Homo sapiens: one gene and its partners. The protein of the gene in region 2 purifies or fractionates together with the protein of the main gene of each other region. This does not show direct contact. Each region holds a gene or a part of one and is shown on either strand. Other genes may lie near its edges.

What was found.
Region 1: the proteins of CCDC13 (region 2) and PCNT purify together in Homo sapiens (co-immunoprecipitation; one study listed by IntAct). This does not show direct contact.
Region 3: the proteins of CCDC13 (region 2) and CEP72 purify together in Homo sapiens (co-immunoprecipitation; one study listed by IntAct). This does not show direct contact.
Region 4: the proteins of CCDC13 (region 2) and CEP131 purify together in Homo sapiens (co-immunoprecipitation; one study listed by IntAct). This does not show direct contact.
Region 5: the proteins of CCDC13 (region 2) and CEP350 purify together in Homo sapiens (co-immunoprecipitation; one study listed by IntAct). This does not show direct contact.
Region 6: the proteins of CCDC13 (region 2) and CCDC18 purify together in Homo sapiens (co-immunoprecipitation; one study listed by IntAct). This does not show direct contact.

Annotation. Positions count from the first base shown.
Region 1 is NC_000021.9:46,327,156-46,330,655, reverse strand, and holds part of PCNT (pericentrin), read right to left. Parts: intron 1-3,500. UniProt on the Homo sapiens protein: Integral component of the filamentous matrix of the centrosome involved in the initial establishment of organized microtubule arrays in both mitosis and meiosis. Plays a role, together with DISC1, in the microtubule network formation.
Region 2 is NC_000003.12:42,763,254-42,766,753, forward strand, and holds part of CCDC13 (coiled-coil domain-containing protein 13), read right to left. Parts: intron 1-3,500. UniProt on the Homo sapiens protein: Required for primary cilia formation and promotes the localization of the ciliopathy protein BBS4 to both centriolar satellites and cilia.
Region 3 is NC_000005.10:632,840-636,339, reverse strand, and holds part of CEP72 (centrosomal protein of 72 kDa), read right to left. Parts: intron 2,572-3,500; coding exon 2,393-2,571; intron 969-2,392; coding exon 756-968; intron 1-755. UniProt on the Homo sapiens protein: Involved in the recruitment of key centrosomal proteins to the centrosome.
Region 4 is NC_000017.11:81,212,966-81,216,465, forward strand, and holds part of CEP131 (centrosomal protein of 131 kDa), read right to left. Parts: intron 1-3,500. UniProt on the Homo sapiens protein: Component of centriolar satellites contributing to the building of a complex and dynamic network required to regulate cilia/flagellum formation.
Region 5 is NC_000001.11:179,957,810-179,961,309, forward strand, and holds part of CEP350 (centrosome-associated protein 350), read left to right. Parts: intron 1-3,500. UniProt on the Homo sapiens protein: Plays an essential role in centriole growth by stabilizing a procentriolar seed composed of at least, SASS6 and CPAP. Required for anchoring microtubules to the centrosomes and for the integrity of the microtubule network.
Region 6 is NC_000001.11:93,204,724-93,208,223, reverse strand, and holds part of CCDC18 (coiled-coil domain-containing protein 18), read right to left. Parts: intron 2,715-3,500; coding exon 2,593-2,714; intron 1,118-2,592; coding exon 826-1,117; intron 1-825.

The DNA of each region.
Region 1 (3,500 bases), on a different chromosome or scaffold from region 2:
TTTTATAATACATATGAAAAAAACTCCTTTTTAGACTGAACTGATGATGTACAATGATATAATCAGAAAAAAGTTAATGAAATATCTGCTTCTAAAGCACCAATGGTTTTTATATACATAATTGACAAAATGGCTTAAGAAATTTGATTCCTAACTTAGTGTACAGCAGAAAGACAATGGCTCTATTCTACACATACTACTTAGTTTACCTATACATGTATAAAGAAAATAAATTTTAGCCAGGTGGGATGGCTCACACCTATAATTCCAGCACTTTGGGAGGCCGAGGTGGGAGAATTACTTGAGCACAGGAGTTTGAGACCAGCCCTGACAACACAGTGTAACACTGTCTCTACAAATTTTTTTTTAAGTTAGCCAGGTATGGTGGCACATGCCTGTAGTCCCAGGTACTAGGGAGGCTGAGGCAGGAGGGTCACTTGAGGCCAGGAGGTCAAGGCTGGAATGAGCCATGATTGCGCCACTGCACTCCAGCCTGGTCAAGAAAACAAGACCCTATCTCAAAAAAAAGGGGGAAAAAGCTGATGTCCAAGATCCAATAGGGGTTAATACCTGATGACTGCATGTTTAGCTTATTAAAATGTCAGGAATTCTGTGGAAAAAGCTGACTGGTACCTGACCTTTGCCCACCATTTTAGAGCCAATGGACAGGAAGAGGAGGTATGTCTCTGCTGATGTCAAGCTGTAACTGTGCAGAGGAGTTCAGGATGACGATGTGAGATGAAAATCAGTCAGGCCCTGCCATGCCTTCATTCCATGAAGAATCCTGGCTGCAGGAGCACATACTTTTCCTAGAGAAAGTATCCTTACATTTTACCAGCTTTTGGTTTTTAAAATACTGCTTTAAACAGTTAAGTTACTACTCACAGCAACAGTTATAAGTAACAGAATGCTTTACCTTGGCCATCTTGCCATTGTTTCACCAAGTTTTGTGAAAGCAGACCTCTCCTCACATCTGCCACACCACCCCACGCTTGAGGGTGAAGTGTCCTGTCCACTGTGGTCACGAGGAGGTGACACAAAATGCAGCAAGTGCAGTGAGTGTGCGTGTGCATCTCTAAGTCAAGGGGACCAGTAATGGGCCTGTTATTTATAGATTGCTTTAAGATGTCCAAAATACATGTTTTATTAGTGGTATAGTTAATTCTAAAATGAAAAAAAATGTTATATAAGTAACCTAATGTGTTTATTGTAGGAAATACCAAAAACCATAACAACGAAAAAACCAACAACTCTATTCCTTTCTGACCACCACTGTTAATTTTCTGGTATATGCCCTTCTGGTTTTGAAAACAAAAATCAAAATGCTTTTCATCAGATCATCTTCCTGAATGAAGGCATGCATCAAATAGCAGAGTTAGAAACTAAGAGAGTCTCTACCTGATGAAACAGCAAAGTATGAGTGTTTAATCAGGAGTCTATACCATGCCTTCTAATGTTAACGACCCATCAGTCTCCAAATACAATTTACCACAAAATGTGCTAAGTTTGGAATGGTTTTCTGATAGGATCCTGAGATTCCCACATATATTTATCAGCTTACTACTTTTAAAACGTCTATGCAGGCCAGGCACAGTGGCTCACGCCTGTAATCCCCACACTTTGGGAGGCCGAGGCAGGTGGATCACGAGGTCAGGAGTTCGAGACCAGCCTGGCCAATGTGGTGAAACCCCATCTCAACCAAACAAATACAAAAATTAGCCGGCCATGGTGGTGCCCACTTGTAATCCCAGCTACTCGGGAGGCTGATGCAGGAGAAACGCTTGAAATCGGGAGGCAGAGGTTGCAGGAAGCAGAGGGCGTGCCGCTGCACTCCAGCCTGGATGACAGAGTGAGACTTCGCCTTAAAGAAAAAAAAAAAGTATGTGCAACCAGAGGGCCGGGTGCAGTGGCTCACGCCTGTAATCCCAGCACTTTGGGAGGCCAAGGTGGGTGGATTGCTTGAGGTCAGGAGTTGAAGACCAGCCTGACCAACATGGTGAAACCCTGTCTCTACTAAAAATACAAAAATTAGCTGGGTTTGGTGGCAGGCGCCTGCAATCCCAGCTACACGGGAGGCTGACGCAGGAAAATCGCTTGAACCCAGGAGGCAGAGGTTACAGTGAGCCAGGACTGCACCACTGCACTCCAGCCTGGGCAAAAGAGTGAGACTCCATTTCAAAAAAAACCAAAAAACATATGCAACCAGAATATATCAAAAGTAACTTTCTGCCCAGCAAGGTGGCAGAAATCCTGTAATCCTGGCACTTTGGGAGCCTGAGGCAGGAAGATCGCTTCAGCCTGGGAGGCAGAGGTTGCACTGAGCAGAGTTCGCGTCACTGCGCTCCAGCCTGGGCAACAGAGAGACTGTATCTTAAAAAGAAAACGGGAAAAAAAAAAAAAACACACCAACCCAACAACCAAAAACACTCAAGAGATAAAAAGCAAAATTCAGGATTTGTAGGTAGAATAACACAAATTTTAACTGTTGCCAACAACTCAATTTTTTAAGTAAAGCAGGATACATACATTATGACCTTGAGCCAGATTCTGCCTTTGGCCACCAGTTTTCCAGCAAATCCTAGCAAACATCAAAGCCTGCACCCATTCTGCTGCAGCAGCAGGGACACTCAACACCTAAGGCCCTCGTTCATAATTCATACAAAAGGCCCAAGGACAGCCCGCCTCCAGGCAGGTTTGTAGGCCCCCAAGGAGCCCGGAAGGCCAGCCCCTTCAGGACTCAGTGTGCACTCACCTGCCACACCTGCCCATGGGGGTGCCCCTGCAGCTCACAAGGCCTCAAGCAGCAGACCCAGTCTCCTCCAGCAACACACCATGTCTGCAACACCTTCACCCCTTCCCTCTTCATCTCACGTTTAGTAAAAAGGTAAAAGACAAATGTGACAAGCAGGTGCATTTACAACTATGTGAAGGAATATTATGTTTTAAATGTCCCAAGAAACACCCATCAAAGGGGCTGACACGACCACACACGAAGAACTCCCAGTCTTCCATTACAAAGCAAACAACTGACACTTGTCTTCAAGTAGTTAATCCAAAACTTCTCAAAATTACATAATAAAGATAAAACAGGGCCAGGCGCAGTGGCTCATGCCTATAATCCCAACACTTTAAGAGGCTGAGGAGGGAGGATCACTTGAGCCCAGGGGTTTGAGGCTGCAGTGACCTGTGATCACACCACTGCACTCCAGGCTGGGCAACACAGCAAAACACTGTCTGGAACAAACAAAAGAAAAAAAAAGAAAAAGAAAACCCAAATTTATTAAGAATAAAACCATAGGCCGGGCACGGTGGCTCATGCCTATAATCCCAGCACTTTGGGAGGCCGAGGCGGGCAGATCACGAGGTCAGGAGATTGAGACCATCCTGGCTAACACAGTGAAACCCCACCTCTATTAAAAATACAAAAACTAGCCGGGCGTGGTGGCGGGCGCCTGTAGTCCCAGCTACTTGGGAGGCTGAGGCAGGAGAATGGCATGAAC
Region 2 (3,500 bases):
TTAAATTCCTAGTCAGGTTACAGTTTACTACGTACAGAGAAACCTTTAGGCTGAACTTAGAATATATAAGAAGGCAGCTTTAGGCTACAGTTAGTTTAACACATCCCACAGACATTTTTGTTTGGCTCTTACAGAACACTATGTTAGGATTTGAATTTGTTGCCAACATTCAAAGAATTGTAGTTTCAATATCAGATTTCCAGTGTCAACAAAAACAGTCAAACTCTGTAAAATATTTGAAGAGATGTACTTTTTTTTTTTTTTTTTTTTAGATGAAGTCTCGCTCTGTCACCCAGGCTGGAGCGCAGTGGCACAATCTTGGCTCACTGCAACCTCTGCCTCCTGGGCTCAAGCAATTCTCCTGCCTCAGCCTTCTGAGTTGCTGGGACTACAGGCATGCACCACCACACCCAGATAATTTTTGTATGTTTTTGTAGAGACATGGTTTCACCATGTTGGCCAGGCTGGTCTTGAACTCCTGATCTCAAGTGATCCACCCACCTCAGCCTCCCAAAGTGCTGGGATCACAGGTGTGAGCCACTGCACCCAGTCTGAAGAGATTTATTCTGAGCCAAATGTGAGTGATCATGGCCTGTGACACAGCCCTCAGGAGATCCTGAGACCACGTGCCCAAGGTGGTCAGGGCACAGCTTGGTTTTATACATTTCAGGCAGACCTGAGACATCAATCAAATACATTTAAGATATATACCGATTTGGTCCAGAAAAGCAGGACAACTCCAAGGTTGGGAGGGGGGAGCTTCCAGGTGATAAGTAGATTTAAAATTTTTCTGATTGGTAATTGGTTAAAAGAGTTACTATAAATAGAAAGGAATATCTGGGTTAGAATAAAAGAGATAAAAGTTTTGATCATGCAAATGAAGCCTCCAGGTAGCAGGCTTCAGAGAGAATAGATTGTAAATGTTTCTTATCAGACTTAAGGTCTGTGTTGATGTTAAATGTTGGTCAACTTTTCCTGAATTCCAAAAGGGAGGAGGGTATAATGAGGCGTGTCCAACCCTTGCTTCCCATCAAGGCCTGAACTGGTCTTTCAGGTTAACTTTGGAGTGCCCTGGCTGAGAAGGAAGTCCATTCAGATGGATGGGGGGCCTCTGAATTTTATGTTTAGTTTACACCAGCTTCTTTTATAAAAGTTTACAGATCTGGCAATGCTGGGCCCATCGTCCCACACGGACAGCAGCTGCTATGCAGAGAGTTCCTTTGGTGCATAATAGGTTCTTTCCATTAAACCACTGTCCCTGCCACCTCCAGATGCTGCAGCTGGCACATCAGCTGCCCATTATCACTGCACATAAATGTTGTTCTTTCTCTTAAACCTGCTGGATTCACTTTTATTTCCCATCAGCCACAGCAGATGTTTTGGGTTTGTGGCTCCTGCTGTGGATTAAGCCCAGTGGCATCTCAGAGGCTGGCTTCAGCCACTCCTCTACCTGGGAGGCCTTCCTCCCAGGCCTCCCCATCCCAGCCCTTTACCTTCCCACTAACTCCCAGTTAGCCTCTAGGATTCCCCTCAGGGCACTCTGTGGACTCCCAGAATCCCTAGGGCACCCCTTGATCACTAAACTTAACCTCAGTGTATTATAATTATCTATTATTTTATTTACATTACTTCCCTTTACAAAGAGACCTCTTAAGGGCAGGGGTCCTAATACCTTATTCATTTGCTAAATCTCAACATCTTGCCCAGAACAGGCCTTCAACTGTCATTTGTAGAATTGTCACTGAATGAATGAACACAGTAACTTGTAAAGCTTTTCTCCTTTTCTACTCCCAATTTGCACTTGAAGTCACTGAGGAACTGGTACTCATTGAATGTACACTGTGCCCCAGGCAAATTACTTAACCTCTTTGCTTTCGTTTCCCATTTGTAAAATGGGACTCTGATACTTACGAACTTCACAGGGAGTTTGTGAGATTAAGTGGAAGAATGCATGGAAATAATTATCATTATCACTGTATGAAAAGTGGTGCTCTTGGCCCAACGGAGCCTCTGGGATAGACAGTAATGCCTGCACTGAGAGGACACCTGTGGTCCAGACCGGCCCCCAGAGTATTAGTATCTAATCTGTGCTATTCATGAGGCCAGTGGAGATTTGAAATTAATTATCTGGGCTGTGGCCAGGGTGTCTATTTTTATTTTTATTTTTTTGAGATGGAGTTTCACTCTCGTTGCCCAGGCTGGAGTGCAATGGCACGATCTCGGCTCACAGCAACCTCCATCTCCTGGGTTCAAGCGATTCTCCTGCCTCAGCCTCCCGAGTAGCTGGGACTACAGGCATGCACCACTACGCCCAGCTAACATTTTTGTATTTTTAAAGCTTCCCAGGTGAGCCTAACGTTCAGCTGGTTTGAGAATGAGAGGTGTTAAGCACTCTGAGAGGCTGTCTGGGGAGAGAGAAGCTGCAGGAGAGACAGGCATCTCAGTCAATTTGAAGCTGAATGCAGAAGAAATTCACCTGGGTGGGGAAGGGACGGTGCCTGAGTGGGGGGCAACGGGCTCTCCTGCCAGAACAGCATGTGCAGAGAATGTGATGAGTGTGGGGAACTATGAAAGGTTCAGAATGGCCAGAGGGCAGGGCACATTTGGGGAGGCACCAGAAGAAGGGTCTGATCTGCCCAGCTAAGGAGCCTGGACTTTATCCTGAGGCGCTGGAGATGTTCAGAGGGTGCACACAGGATCAGCTTTGCCTTCTGCAGAGCTGGAGGCAAAGGGCCTAGCTAGGAGGGGGTCTCTGGGAAGCCATGTGGGCCTAAATCAAAACTGTAGCAGTGGAGATGGAGGAGGGGGAAGAGGAATTGCTGCCAAATGGAAGGGACTGAAGGCAACTATGCAGAGAAGGAGAGGGGAGAAACCTAGGCGGTTTGGGTTTGAGTGACTGGGGAGACAGCAGGCCCTGACAGAGGAGCAGTTTTCCACGCTGCAGACAAGGTGGTGGACTTTGAGATGCTGGGTGGGCAGCTGGCTGGCTGAGATGCTGGGTGGGTCTGGGGTTCAGAAGGGAAGTCTGAGCTGGAGCCTCAGGTAGTTGAGACCTAGAGTATGAACAAAGCAGCATGAGGAGAAGGTGTAGAGTGAGGAGGTGGGAGAGAGGGAAGGAGAGGGAAGAGGAAGAAGAGACAGCTGGAAGCAAGTAACAGCCTGACGGGTTCATCTTGCCTGCTGTTCAGAAAACCAATGCACTAAAAACAGCGAGTTTTGCAGCAAAGAAAGAGTTTGATGGGCCAGTCAAGTGAAAGGAGGGGAGGTAATTCTCAGATCTTCCTCTCACTGCAGTGAGCCATGATTGCACCACTGCACTCCAGACCGGGGAAAAGAGCGAGATCCTGTCTCAAAGAAAAAAAAAAAAAAACAACCAACCAACCAAACAAACAAACTTCCTCTCCAAGAATATTAGCAAATTGAATCCAATGATGTATTTGAAAAATTATACCACATGACCAAATAGGAGTTACTTTAGGTATGCAAGGCTGGTTTAACAT
Region 3 (3,500 bases), on a different chromosome or scaffold from region 2:
GTGCAGAGAAAAAGCACTTATTTACCAACCATGAATCTAAACCATGAATGGATTATAAATTTCAATGTGCTGCATTCTTTCCAAAGACATTTTGGAGAGTTCCACAAACAAATAAATACACAGAGAACAGGAGAAATTTCATAGTAAAAGCAAACGATGTGAAAAATATTTAACTACTTAAAAAGGAACTGAAGGGAGTAAAAGTTGACAGGGATTTCATGTTGCTGTAGTTCGAAGGAACCCCCCAAAGTTCCTAAGCTGGAAACTTATTGCCACTCTAACAGTATTAAGCGGAGGGCCTTTAAGAGGTGAACAGGTCACAGGGCCAGCCCTCAGGGAGGCAGGAATGCTGTAGCACAGGGCTGGGTTCCTGATAAAGGATGAGTCTGGAACAGGTCACAGGGCCAACCCTCAGGGAGGCGGGAATGCTGTATCGCAGGGCTGGGTTCCTGATAAAGGATGAGTCTGGAACAGGTCACAGGGCCAGCCCGCAGGGAGGCAGGAATGCTGTAGCGCAGGGCTGGGTTCCCGATAAAGGATGAGTCTAGCTCCATTTCTCTGTCTTGAGCTTGCTTCTGCCTGCACCATGCTTCTGCCTGTGCCATGGGAGGACCAGCACCAGGTGCCGGCACCGTGCTCTTGGACTTCCCAGCCTCCAGAACCATGAGCCACATAAGCTTCTGTTCTTTATAAATTACTCAGTCTGTGGTTTTCTGTTACAGCAACAGAAAACAGACTAAGACACGCGTAAGTACCTGGGTGTGGGGTGAAGTACGTGTGTGGCCTGGGGGCACGGGAGGCCTCTGGCTCCGCTCCGTACAGTGGCGGAAGCTCTCCACAGAGCTGGCTCCAAGGCATCTTCTCCAGACAGCACCCTCTGCAGCTGCTCCTCCTCGTCTCACGGCCCTGCTTCCCAGAGTCCCCACACTGGTACTGTACCAACTGCGGGCTCAACAGATGTCTGGATTCTATTAAAATATTGTAAATAAAATATTTCATAAAACATTGTAAAAGTTTTATTCCATCAAAAATTACATTTTAAGCTTCTGAATAGTGTATGGTATCTGTTAGACCGAGGGGTTAATCACGTGCTGGGTGACACTGAAATGAATCCACAGTGACTTCTAACAGCAAGAGAGCTTGGAACTGGGAACTGGCGCCACTCGCCTGCGAGACTCAGGACAAGGCTGCAAGAATCCAGCCGCATGAAGTGGAGCAAAGTCAGACAAAATGATGCACAAAACAGAAGAGAGAGTCCAGACAGTCTCAATACAAAATTAGCTGGGTGTGGTGGTGGGCGCCTGTAGTCCCAGCTACTTGGGAGGCTGAGGCAGGAGAATCACTTGAACCCGGGAGGCAAAGGCTGCAGCAAGCCAAGATTGCGCCACTGCACTCCAGCCTGGGCGGCAGAGCAAAACTCCATCTCAAAATAAACAAAACAAAAAACAAAATAAACTGTGCCCTTCATAAACTGGACTGTAATGAAATTAAAACTTGTGCTCTTCAAAGCACTGTTCAGATAATGAAAAGGCCAGCCACAGAAGGGAGGAAATGGGCAGCCCTTGTGCCTGAGAAAGGGCCTGTGTCAAAACCACCAAGATCTCTTAGGACTCAATACTAAGAGAAGCAACCCCAGAACAAAGGTGGGCAGACCTGGAGAGAAAAGAAGAGACAGGCACGGCCAGTATCTCAACAGCAGCGGATGCAAATTAAAGCCATAAACACAGACCACAACCCCCTGACAGAGCAGCTAGGATTAAAGGACTCAGCTCCCAGTGCCGGCAAGGACATGGCTCGAGCACCGCTGCCACAGGGCAGACATCTTTGCACAGATGAACCTAAGATTTCAGCCCAAACTCAGGTCTCCACCTGTTGTTTCCACGAAAAGTTCTCAGAAACTCACAGCGGAGGTGGAATAAATGAAGCTAAAGCCCATCAGCACATCCCAGTGGAGGGCAGTGCCACCGGGCAACGGAGTCTCCGAGACACCCTTGCTGGGATCTACAGGTCTGCACGTGGCGGCCTGAGCTCAGGGTTTCCTGCAAGTTCGGTGACTATGCCCCCCTGCAGCTGCCGCAGATGTCAGCCCCACTTGCCACAGGACACTAGGCTTCTTGTCTGTTTTAGACAGTTTGCCTTTTCCTGTGATCTCAGAAGGATACAATTTAAACCATCATGCAGTATGACTATACTCAAATATGTTAACTTTCTCATTTATAACTCTGTAGTCCAAATGGCTGGCATTCGAAAGCACACAAAGACACATCATGAAGATCCTATCCTTCAAGGTAAGTTCCACAAAAAGAGCAACTGTGGACTCCAAGCCCAGTAACGACTATATATATCCCAGAGCCAGCGGACCCACTGGCCTCCTGGCAGATGAGCAGCGCACCTTGGGAACCACGAGAGTCGGCCTCACGCCCCTTCTGGCTGAAGCTCGTGCTCCCGGGAGGCCTGCCGAGGTCCCACTCGCACTCTGCAATGAGGTTCAGGACTGCCTCGTCATCCGCATCCATGACCAGGCTCTGCTTGGCCAAGGCCTCGGTGCACTTGGCTCTGGGGTGGTGTGGTCTGTAAGGAAAAGCAAACTCATCAGCATCACTCAAGCCAGCCATATGCTCCGGCCCACGCAGACCAGGAGAAGGAAAATTCCTGCACGGTCTCTGAGAGAAGCAGCGTGCTGCAAACGTGGGGCAGCCGGGTCCTGTTGCTTCCACTGCAGTGATGCTAAAGAGTGACTCACCAAGGACAATCGGTGAGCAACAGCCAGGTTACGTGATAACATGACAGCATCCCGGCACTGGACAGAACCCCACCAGGACTGGGCCAAATCCCAGCACTGGACAGAACCCCACCAGGACTGGGCCAAACCCCGGCACTGAACAGAACCCCACCAGGACTGGTCTAAATCCCGGCACTGGACAGCACCCCACCAGGACTGGGTCAAATCCAGCACTGGACAGAACCCCACCAGGACGGGACTAAATCCTGGCACTGGACAGAACCCCACCAGGACTGGGCCAAATCCCGGCACTGAACAGAACCCCACCAGGACTGGTCTAAATCCCGGAACTGGACAGCACCCCACCAGGACTGGGTCAAATCCAGCACTGGACAGAACCCCACCAGGACTGGTCTAAATCCCGGCACTGGACAGAACCCCACCAGGACTGGGCCAAATCCCGGCACTGGACAGAACCCCACCAGGACTGGTCTAAATCCCGGCACTGGACAGCACCCCACCAGGACTGGGTCAAATCCCGGCACTGGACAGAACCCCACCAGGACTGGTCTAAATCCCGGCACTGGACAGAACCCCACCAGGACTGGGCCAAATCCCGGCACTGGACAGAACCCCACCAGGACTGGTCTAAATCCCGGCACTGGACAGAACCCCACCAGAACTGGTCCAAATCCCGGCACTGGACAGAACCCCACCAGAACTGGTCCAAATCCCGGCACTGGACAGAACCCCACCAGGACTGGTCCAAATCCCGGCG
Region 4 (3,500 bases), on a different chromosome or scaffold from region 2:
TTGGTCTCTGAGACCACTCTCCAAGAAAAAGAACCGGGGCTTCTTGAAGAAATGGCTGATTCTAGGACTGGAGGAGGAAATAGACAAGATGAGGCTGGAGCAGTTTATAGGGCCAGAAATAAGGACGTGCTCAGAAGACAAAGTGATGGGCAATGACACAGGGACCCAGGAGCCACCTGAAAGTTCCCAGTGGCCAAAGCTGTGACAATGAGAGCAACAAAATAAGCAAACTAGCATTGAATTATAACTTGAAGTGTAAAATAAATATCCACGAGTCCATTATAATAAATGATTGAAAAAATTAATAAGTGGGGCCAGGTGCAGTGGCTCATGCCTGTAATCCCAGCACTTTGGGAAGCCAAGGCAGGAGGATCACTTGAGGTCAGGAGTTCGAGACCAGCCTGGCCAACATGGTGAAACCCCATCTCTACTGAAATACAAAAATTAGTCAGGTGTGGTGGCACACGCCTGTAGTTCTAGCTACTCAGGAGGCTGAGATAGGAAAATCGCTTGAACCCGGGAGGCGGAGATTGCAGTGAGCCAAGATTATGCCACTGCACTGCAGCCTGGGCGACAGCGTGAGACACTGTCTCAAAAAAAAAAAAAAATTATAAATGAGGGTGAACAGACAAATCTCCTGTGTAGAAGAATTCCAAATAACTTCTATAGATGCTCTTCTCTAAAGGAGGGGGAGCAAAACTCCCCACCCCTTCCATGTGGGCTGAACAAAGCGACTTCCTTCCAGAGAGCACAGGGGATGGGCGACCTCACAGTGGAGAAGCCTGACCCTCCACCTTGGCCAGGGGACCAAGGCCAGCAGCATCACCAGTGAGAGGTCACATGGACAGTGTGGACCCCAGACAGGATGGGGTGAGAAGAGTACTTTACCTCTGTGGCCTTCCTCCTAGAACCCATCCACCACCCAGTCTGATCACGAGAAAAATATCAGGCAAGGGCCAACAGGGGGCCATTCTGTAAAATCCCTGACCAGCTCTCCCCAAAACTCGAAGGTCATCAAAAACAAGGAGAGTCTGAGAAACTCACAGCCCAAACAAGCCTGAGACCCACAGCCCAAAAATCATGTGGGATCCTGGGACAGAAAAGAAAAACTGCAAAAATACAAATCAAGTGTGGACTTTAGTCAGTGATTTACCAATAATGACTTGTTAATTGTACACGTCCCATCATAATGTAAGATATTCAAATAGCAGAGACTGGGTGCGGTACAGGGGAACACCCTGCACTTTCCAATTTTTCTATAAATTTAAAACTATACTAACATAAAAGGTTTATTTTTAAAAATCGTACAGTCACGCCGGAGGCTCACGCCTGTAAGCCCAGCACTTTGGGAGGCCAAGGCGGGCGGATTCACTTGAGGTCAGTAGTTTGAGACCAGCCTGGCCAACATGGTGAAATCCTGTCTCTACTAAAAATACAAAACTTAGCCCGGCATGGTGGCAGGCGCCTGTAATCCCAGCTACTCGGGAGGCTGAGGCAGGAGAATCACTTGAACCCAGGAGACAGAGATTGCGGTGAGGTGAAATCACACCATTGCACTCCAGCCTAGGTGACAGGAGTGAAACTTCATCTCAAAAAAGAAAAAGAAAAAAATAAAATAAAAAGTAAAAAGTAAACTAAAAGGTAGTACAGTCAGATATCTTTTGTTACATATGGATCCTGTAAAGGCCAAAACTGTGCTGCACGTGTGCCAACCAGAGCACGAGGGAGCAGGCCCCGTGGCACCCTGTGATGCGAGTGTGACTTAGGGCAATGATCTTTACGGACAGCAACTTGGCAATGCCTATCAAAAAAAAAAATTTTTTTTGAGACGGAATCTCGCTCTGTCGCCCAGGGTGGAGTGCAGTGGCGCGATCTCGGCTCACTGCAAGTTCCGCCTCCTGGGTTCACGCCATTCTCCTGCCTCAGCCTCCCGAGTAGCCGCGACTACAGGTGCCTGCCACCACGCCCGGCTAATTTTTTTTTTTGTATTTTTAGTAGAGATGGGGTTTCACCGTGTTAGCCAGGATGGTCTCAATCTCCTGGCCTCGTGATCTGCTTGCCTCAACCTCCCAAAGTGCTGGGATTACAGGCATGAGCCACCGCGCCTGGCCAAAAATTTACAATTTAGTTTTAATTTTAATTTTAAAAGATAGAGTCTCACTCTGTTGCCCAGGCTGGAGAGCAGTGGCATGATCATAGCTCACTGCAGCCTCAAACTTTCTGGGTTCAAGCCATCCTCCTGCCCCAGCCTCCCATGTAGCTGGGACTACAGGCATGCACCACCACACTCGGCTAATTTTTTAATTTTTTTGTAGAGACAGGGGTCTCACTATGTTGCCCAGGCTGGTCTCAAACTCCTGGCCTCAAGTGATCCTCCCACCGCAGCCACGCAAAGTGCTGGGATTACAGATATTGGCCACCACTCCCGGCCCCCTTTCAAATTTTTTTATTTATTTAATTTTTTTTGAAATGGAGTCTCGCTGTCACCCAGGCTAGAGTGTGGTGGTGCGATCTTGGCTCACTGCAACCTCCAGCTTCCGGGTTAAATCAGTTCTCCTGCCTTAGCTTCCTGTGTAGCTGGCATTACAGGTGCCTGCCACCACGTCCAGCTATTTTTTCTATTTTTAGTAGAGACGAGGTTTCACCGTGTTGGCCAGGCTGGTCTCGAACTCCTGACCTCAAGCAATCTGCCCACCTCGGCGTCCCAAAGTGCTGGGATTACAGGCACGGGCCACCGCACCTGGCCCCCCTTTCAAAATTTTAAATGGACTTATGCTCTGACCCAGTAGTTATCCTTTAGGATTTATTCTACAGGCGTATTTACATGTATGCAAAATGGCAAAGACACAGGGTATTTGCTGTGCCACTCTTGGTACTATGATAAGGAAAATCCAGAGGAGCACTGGGTGAAGTTCTGGTGCATCATCTGATGAACTATTGTCAGCTGCTACAAAACAATGTAAGGAAAGCGGGAGCAGGGTCAGGTGCAGCGGCCCACACCCGTAATCCCAGCACTTTGGGAGGCCGAGGTGGGAGGATCGCTTCAGCCCAGGAGTTAAGGACCAGCAACCTAGTGAGACCCCTGTCCCTACAAAAAAATTAAAAATTAGTAGGCTGGGTGTGGTGGCTCACACCTGTAATCCCAGCACTTCGGGAGGCTGAGGCAGGAGGATCACCTGAGGTCAAGAGTTCAAGACCAGCCTGACCAACATGGCGAAACCCCGTCGCTACTAAAAATACAAAATTAGCCGGGCATGGTGGTGCATGCCTGTAATCCCAGCTTCTTGGGAGGCAGAGGCAGGAGAATCCCTTGAACCCGGGAGGCAGAGGCTGCAGTGAGCCGAGATCTCACAAATGCACTCCAGCCTGGGCAAAAAGAGCAAAAGTCTGTCTCAAAAGAAAAAAAAAATTAAAAATTAGCTGGGCAGGGTGGTGAGCACCTGTAATCCATGCTACTCAGGATGCTGAGGTAAGAGGATCACTTGTGTCCGGGAGGTGGA
Region 5 (3,500 bases), on a different chromosome or scaffold from region 2:
GCAACAGGTTACGGTAATTTAAAGAAAATATAAACTTTAAGACCCTAACCTGTTATACTAGTACTATAATTATAGCCTTGTAATAACTTTAAGTCACTTCTTAATCTCAGTATTGGGAGTTTAAATTCTTCAAGGCCAGCTAGTCCAATTCCCATATTTTATACATAAGAAAACAGAAGGTTGTATAGGGGCGATATCTCATGCATAGTTGATTTCATAACTGGGAGAAGAATCCATTGCACAGCTGCTAAGTCTACATTTGTTTAATATGTCAGATAATTATAAAATCAGAACATAATTGTGATCAACTTGGCAGTCTATTCAGTATTAATTAAAAACTCAAAATGGGCCTTTTTTTTCATGAATCCAAAGTGTTAACTTAAAAATGAATCTGAACCCTTTCCTCTGTAGTTGGGACTATAAATTGATACCATTGGAGCAACCTTCTGGAAGGAAATTTGGCATTCCCTATCAAGATTAAAAGTATATATATTGTTTGATAGAATCATTTCCTGCTTAAAATTTATGTTACATAAATTTTAACAGCATAGGAATTGTATAAGAATGTTTATATTAGCATTATTTCAAGATGTCAATAACATTTATAAATAATTTAAAAATGTCCTAAATGTCTGTTGGTAGGCTAATAGTTAAAAGTCTAGTATTTTTATGCTGTGAATTACTGTGCAGTTGTTAACAGGTTTCAGGGTATCTATATTTACTTCATGAGCAGCAGCTGAGCATATCCTTCAGCTCCTGGAACCATGCGGTGGACCTTCTGGATTCAAAACCTAACTGCACTACTTTCTAGCTGTGACTCTTGGCGAATTACTTAAAGTCAACTATAAATTGGATATACTAGTAGTTCTCATGTTACAGGGGTACCATGAGAATTAAATGAGTTAACAGTTAGGCCCTAAATAAGCATTAATAAGCGCCACATAAGTGTTTGCTGTTACAATTATGTATTGACTTGGAAGAATGTTCATGATATAAAATTAAGTGAAAAAATAAGTTGCACTATACTATAGAATATGATTTATTTAAAAAACACATAGACAAATGTAGTTTTGTTTTCATTTTGCATGTGAATAGAAAAAGGTCTATAAGGATAGACATTAAACATGTTATTCCTGAGGGAGTGGATGACTTTTCTTTTTTACTTTAGACATTTTTGTATGGTTTTATTGTAAGAATCACTTTTATAATTTTTGAAACTTTTTTCTAAAAAAAGGAAGTAAATTTTTTCTTCTATTAAATAGTGATATAAATGTATTTTTGAATGTGATTTTTAGAGATCTACACATTTCATCAACAGAGTGTCTCATAATTAGATCCTGTGTCAAAACATTTGTTGATGGAAGGGCTGGGACTTGGTGGCTCACGCCTGTAATCCCAGCTCTTAGAGAGGCCGAGGCAAGTGGGTCACTTGAGGTCAGGAGTTCGAGACCGGCCTGGCCAACAAGGCGAAACCCATCTCTACTAAAAATACGAAAACTAGCAAGGCGTGGTGGCAGGCCTGTAATCCCAGCTACTGGGGAGGCCAAGGCAGGAGAATTGCTTGAACCAGGGAGGTGGAGGTTGCAGTGAGCCAAGACTGCCACTGCACTCCAGCCTGGGCAACAGAGCAAGACTCCATCTCAAAACAAACAAAACTTTTGTTGGCTGGGTGCGGTGTCTCATGCCTATAATCCCAGCACTTTGGGAGGCTGAGGCGGGCAGATCACCTGAGATTAGGAGCTTCAGACCAGCCTGGCCAACATAAGGAAACCCCATCTCTACTAAAAGTAAAAAACTAGCTGGGCATGGTGGCAGGCTCCTATAATCCCAGCTGCTGGGGAAGCTGAGGCAGGAGAATTGCTTGAACCTGAGTGGCAGAGGTTGCAGTGAGCCAAGATTGCACCACTGCACTCCAGCCTAGGTGACAGAGGAAGACTCTGGCTCAAAACAGACAAACAAACAAAAAAACTTTTGTTGGCAGAAGGTTGAAATTTAGGAAAATCTATAATAAATATATTTGTTTTTCTCCTAGCTTTGTAGCCTTAAGTCTTATTTCTTACTTTACAAAGTAAACCCGTAGGCTAGATCAGTGTTTCTTAAATCCAGTATTCCTAAACTGTGCACTGAAGTAAATCCTCACTTAATGTTGTCCATAAGTACTTGGAAACTGCAACTTCTAAGACCCCAAACACCTCTAATATTAAACATTGAAATAAATGGGTCCTATGCATACATTTAAGAAATACTAAAAACAAGATAATTACCCACTTATTTCAGTTCAGGATGGCAGGTGGCTGGAGCCTGTCCCGGCAAGTAGGGCACAAGATAGGCTGCCATTCCATTGCAGGTAGCATTTACAGACACACACACACCCACCCACCCACCCACATTCACTCAGACTGGGACCATATAGACATGCCAATTCATGTCAGTTCACCTAATGCGTGCACCTCTCTGATGTGGGAGGAAACTGGAGCATACGGAGAAAAGCCACACAGACATGGGGAGAACATGCAGGCTCCACATAGATGGTAGCCCTGGTGGGGAAATCAAAATTTTTTTCTCATCAAAATTGTGAAGAAATGATATTGAATGAAACTATGTTATGGAGGACCTGCCGTACTGTGGAGCACCATAGTAACTCACCTGGACACTATGCATTATTTGAGAAATTTTAATGGAAACAGCAATATTGGATAGCTGTGGGATATTTGACATCTATAGGACACTACTCAAACTACCAGTTTGAGATACCACACAAGAGATTGTGTTCCATTTTTTTTGATGACACTGTGTCTTCCAAACGCTAGGTTTTGGGAGTTTGCTGTGATAAAAAGCAAGTACTATGCAAAAATCAATTTGGAACAGTAAATGAAGGTGGTGGTGTCCAAAATGATTTCAAGATTTGAGAACTTGTGTAATATCTAGTAGGTACACACATCCTATTAAGTAGTTGTGGTAATTTAGTAATAAAAATATTTATTTCAATTTATACATATTTATTTTTCGATCTGCTACTAAGTTGGTAGGCTATAAATACTTTTTAGGTTGTGGACTGAACTACTTAGTAAATGGAACTGTTAGGTATTTTTTTGGCCTAGGGGTTCCATGAAAAAAATAACTGGCATACTGAGGGGTCTGTGAACTGAGAAAGTTTAGGAACCTCTTGAACTTTTGACCAGGACACCTATATATATTTTCCATGTTCTGTGCTCCCAAAGGTTGATTTTTTACATTTATCTTTATTTTTTATTTTTTTAAATAAAAAGAATAGATGTGTGTTATACGTGTATGTGTATACATATAATGAATCAAAAGTTTCACTTTTCAAAGTTTTACTTTAAACAGCCTCATGGCCAGGCGCGGTGGCTCATGCCTATAATGCCAGCACTTTGGAAGGCCGAGGTAGGCAGATCATTTGAGGTCAGGAGTTCAAGACCAACCTGGCCAACGTGGTGAAACACCATCTCTACTAAAAATACAAAAAAATTAGCTCGGCG
Region 6 (3,500 bases), on a different chromosome or scaffold from region 2:
CTCATACATTGCTGGTGAGAATGTAAAATAGTGTAGACATTTTGGAAAACAGTTTGGAATAAATTCACCATATGACCCAAGAATTCTACTCCTAGGTATCTACCCAAGAGAAATGAAAACATGTCCAAAGACTTGTATGCAAACGTTCATAGCAGCATTATTCATAATATCCCAAAGTGGAAACAATCCAAATGTCCATCAGCCAGTGAATGGATAAACAAAATATAACATATCTATATAATGAAATACTATTTAGCAATAAAAAGAAATGAAATACTGATATCACAACATGAACGACTCTAAGAATGCAAAAGACCAGGTGCAAAAGAGCACATATTATACGAGTTCATTTATGTGAAATGTCCAGAAAAGACAAATCTACAGATGCAAAAACTATTAGTGTCTTCCTAGGGGTAGAAGTGAGTACAGGGACTAATTATAAATGGGTCCAAAATACCTTTTGGGGATGACAGACATGTTTCAAAGCTGGATCATGGTGATTGTTACAAAACTTATAAATTTACTAAAAATCATAGATTAGTACACTTAAAACAGGCAAATTTTATGGTATATAAATGATACTTCAACAAAGCTGTTTAAAAAAAATTCTGTGCCATTCTTATATATGGCATCTGAGAAACTGGGGAAAAGTGTAGAATGGTAAGTGCAGGAAAAAAAATAGAGATTTAGACAGAAGAGAAATTCATGACTAAAAGTATAGAGAAAAAGAAATTAGAAGCTAATAAAGCAACCACAAAATGATAGTCTTTTCTAAAACACTTTAGTAAAATTCTTCTTTTCCATTACGTAATCACACATACTTACTGGCAACTGGGATATAATCTTTTCCAAACTTCTTAGTTCTACCCTTGAACTTTCAATTTCTTGTTGACATAAATCTAGTCGCTCATTCTGTGCTGCAACACGGACCTTTAATTCTCGGTTTTCATTCATTAAAGAAAATTTGTCTCTAAGTATTTCGTCTTTGTTCTCTAACTCACTCTCTAGCTTCAAAATACTTTGTCTAGATTCAGTTAGTTGTGCCATGACTTCTGAATTTTTCACTGCCATGATCCTTAATTTTTCTTTTCCGTTGTTATTTTCTTCTTTTAACTGCCTATGAAGAAAAGAGAATAAAAATGAAAATAAAATATATATGCATTCATTTTAATCATATTTATTTAATCTCACTTTTAAAATTTTTTGAAGCTTAATTCTAAAATAATACCTGCTCACATTTACTAAATACCTACTTTCTGCATGCCAGGCACTCACAACTTTATATGGTTGGCACTATTATTACTTCTTATTTACAGATGAGGTAACTGAGGCACAAAAAGGTTATATAACTTTCCTAGTGTCTCACAGTAAATGGTAGGGAAGGACAGCCCTACTGTCTTAAAAGCATTTCTGCTCCCTGTTTAATTATATAAGACAGGAAATCTAACTTCAAAATCCCTGACATAGCATTTCACATTATCAACAAAGTTTTGGATTCCTAAAACAGGAGAAAAAGTAAACTGGCTCTACATAATTGTACAACCAGCTTAAGAGCCCAGCATCAATGACTTTCTGTTCTTACAAGGATTCTTTTAAGAAATACTGCATCAACAAGTCTTAATGGCACACTGGGAGATACTGTGAGGAAAAACTTAGACATTTTAGAGGGTTAGACTCCAAATGTGAAGTTTTAAAAATATCTTAACCAATTTATTTCACTTATATTTGAAATATGAGAATAACTTTTTTGAAAAATATGAAAATAACGACTTAAGAAATCATATCTAATTACAAATACAAGAATTCTTTCATGAAGTATAAAAATTTTAAGTGATAAAGGATTGCATCATAGTGTAATTGGCAGCATCTTTCTTTCTTAAAAGTATATCTTGCAATCGATAACCGATTCTAAAAAATACTCTAGTAAAAAGTATCTTTACTTCCTCCTCCTTGGCAAAAATACTAAACAGACTACCTTAAGGAAAGTATGGCAAAATTAGACAAATCAGTCATTGATTGCTTCCTGCTCCCCCTTTTTTTTAAATTAACAGTTTGAAGTGATAAAGACTGGTTAATATTAACCTCTGAAAGTTGATGGGTGTTAGTTTTGAGAGGACAACATGATGTACTAAAAGAGAGCATTGGAGTCAGAAGACTTCGATCTTTCAGACCTTCAGTAAATTCTGGCTACTCTCGGGGCTTCTGTTTACTTATAAAATGAGAAGTCTGGACTAGGTAATTTTTTATGATTTGAAAAACACTTTTTTTTAGAACATCGGATATTATACACATTTTACTAGTGAGTTAATGTGGTTATACATCAAGGACATTATATCTATTAATTTTCTCTAAATATATGCAAAGCAAATATGTTGATCAGTATGTCTCCGTATTTACAAATATTATTAGCATTAACACATTTTACTTCACTTCTAATTCTAACTCTATAGCTAGAAAACAGTTTCAGTCATGAAGCCTATCCTTCTATATAATGTAAGCCTATAATTACAACAATAAAATATTGTGTTTTAAAGTGTTTCAGTTTTTTCCATGTCCACACAAAAATCCTTTTTCTACAACAGAATACTGTACCTTAATTTCTCTTTCAGAATTTCAAGTTCACTTTTATATAGACCACACCTTTCTTGTAGCCTTTTATTTTCTTTTTCACAGTTAGTTAGATTTCTCTCTAATATTTCTTCTTCAGCTTGAACCTAAAACAATAATTTAAGTGGACATACTAATGTGGTTGTAAGTTTTAGGTGTTTCAAGCTAAAAATGTCAGTAGTGATTTCAGAAATAAGCAGGAGAGTAGACTAAGAATTTCATACATTTAAGTCCCCAGCCTTGTAGTGAAAAGAAGCAAAGTGAAGTTCCTGGGCAGTAGCAAAGGACAGAGAAAAAGACACTACTACCTGTCCAGAAAACCTGTAACAGATAGGCAATTGCATCAACTGAAGTCAAAAATTCATCTACAGCTGCTGCGTCCGAGTTACTAAAGGTTAATTTCAGTGCAAATATTCCAGAGAAGTTACTTTTGAAATTTGAACCACAAAATTTACCAACGAAACCACAGCCCAAAATGTAGAACAGAAAAAAGCACCCAAGATACACTGTTGAGAGGAGAAGATTGGGTAGATCTGCCCCAATTCCTTTGTTACCCTGTTACATCCACCTAACTATAGGGCTTTGCTGAGCATTGTTTGCAATTGATAATCCTAAGTGTAAAAAAACAAAACCTGTCTCTTACATTCTTCTCTCCTTCTCCATAAAGTCCTTCTTCTCCCCAAGCATATTCCTCCTACTAGGTCTTCTACCTCCCCTTACTGATCACCTTATTAAAAATCCCTTCTAAGATATTTCATTCCCACAAGGACCCTCTTTAGCTCTCAAAACAGCGTTCTGATTAACTAATTCACACTTAAGATTTCAGTACCCTAAAACTTAAAGTATAATAATAATAAAATTTAAAAAAAAAAGATTTCAGTACCTAGTGAGAC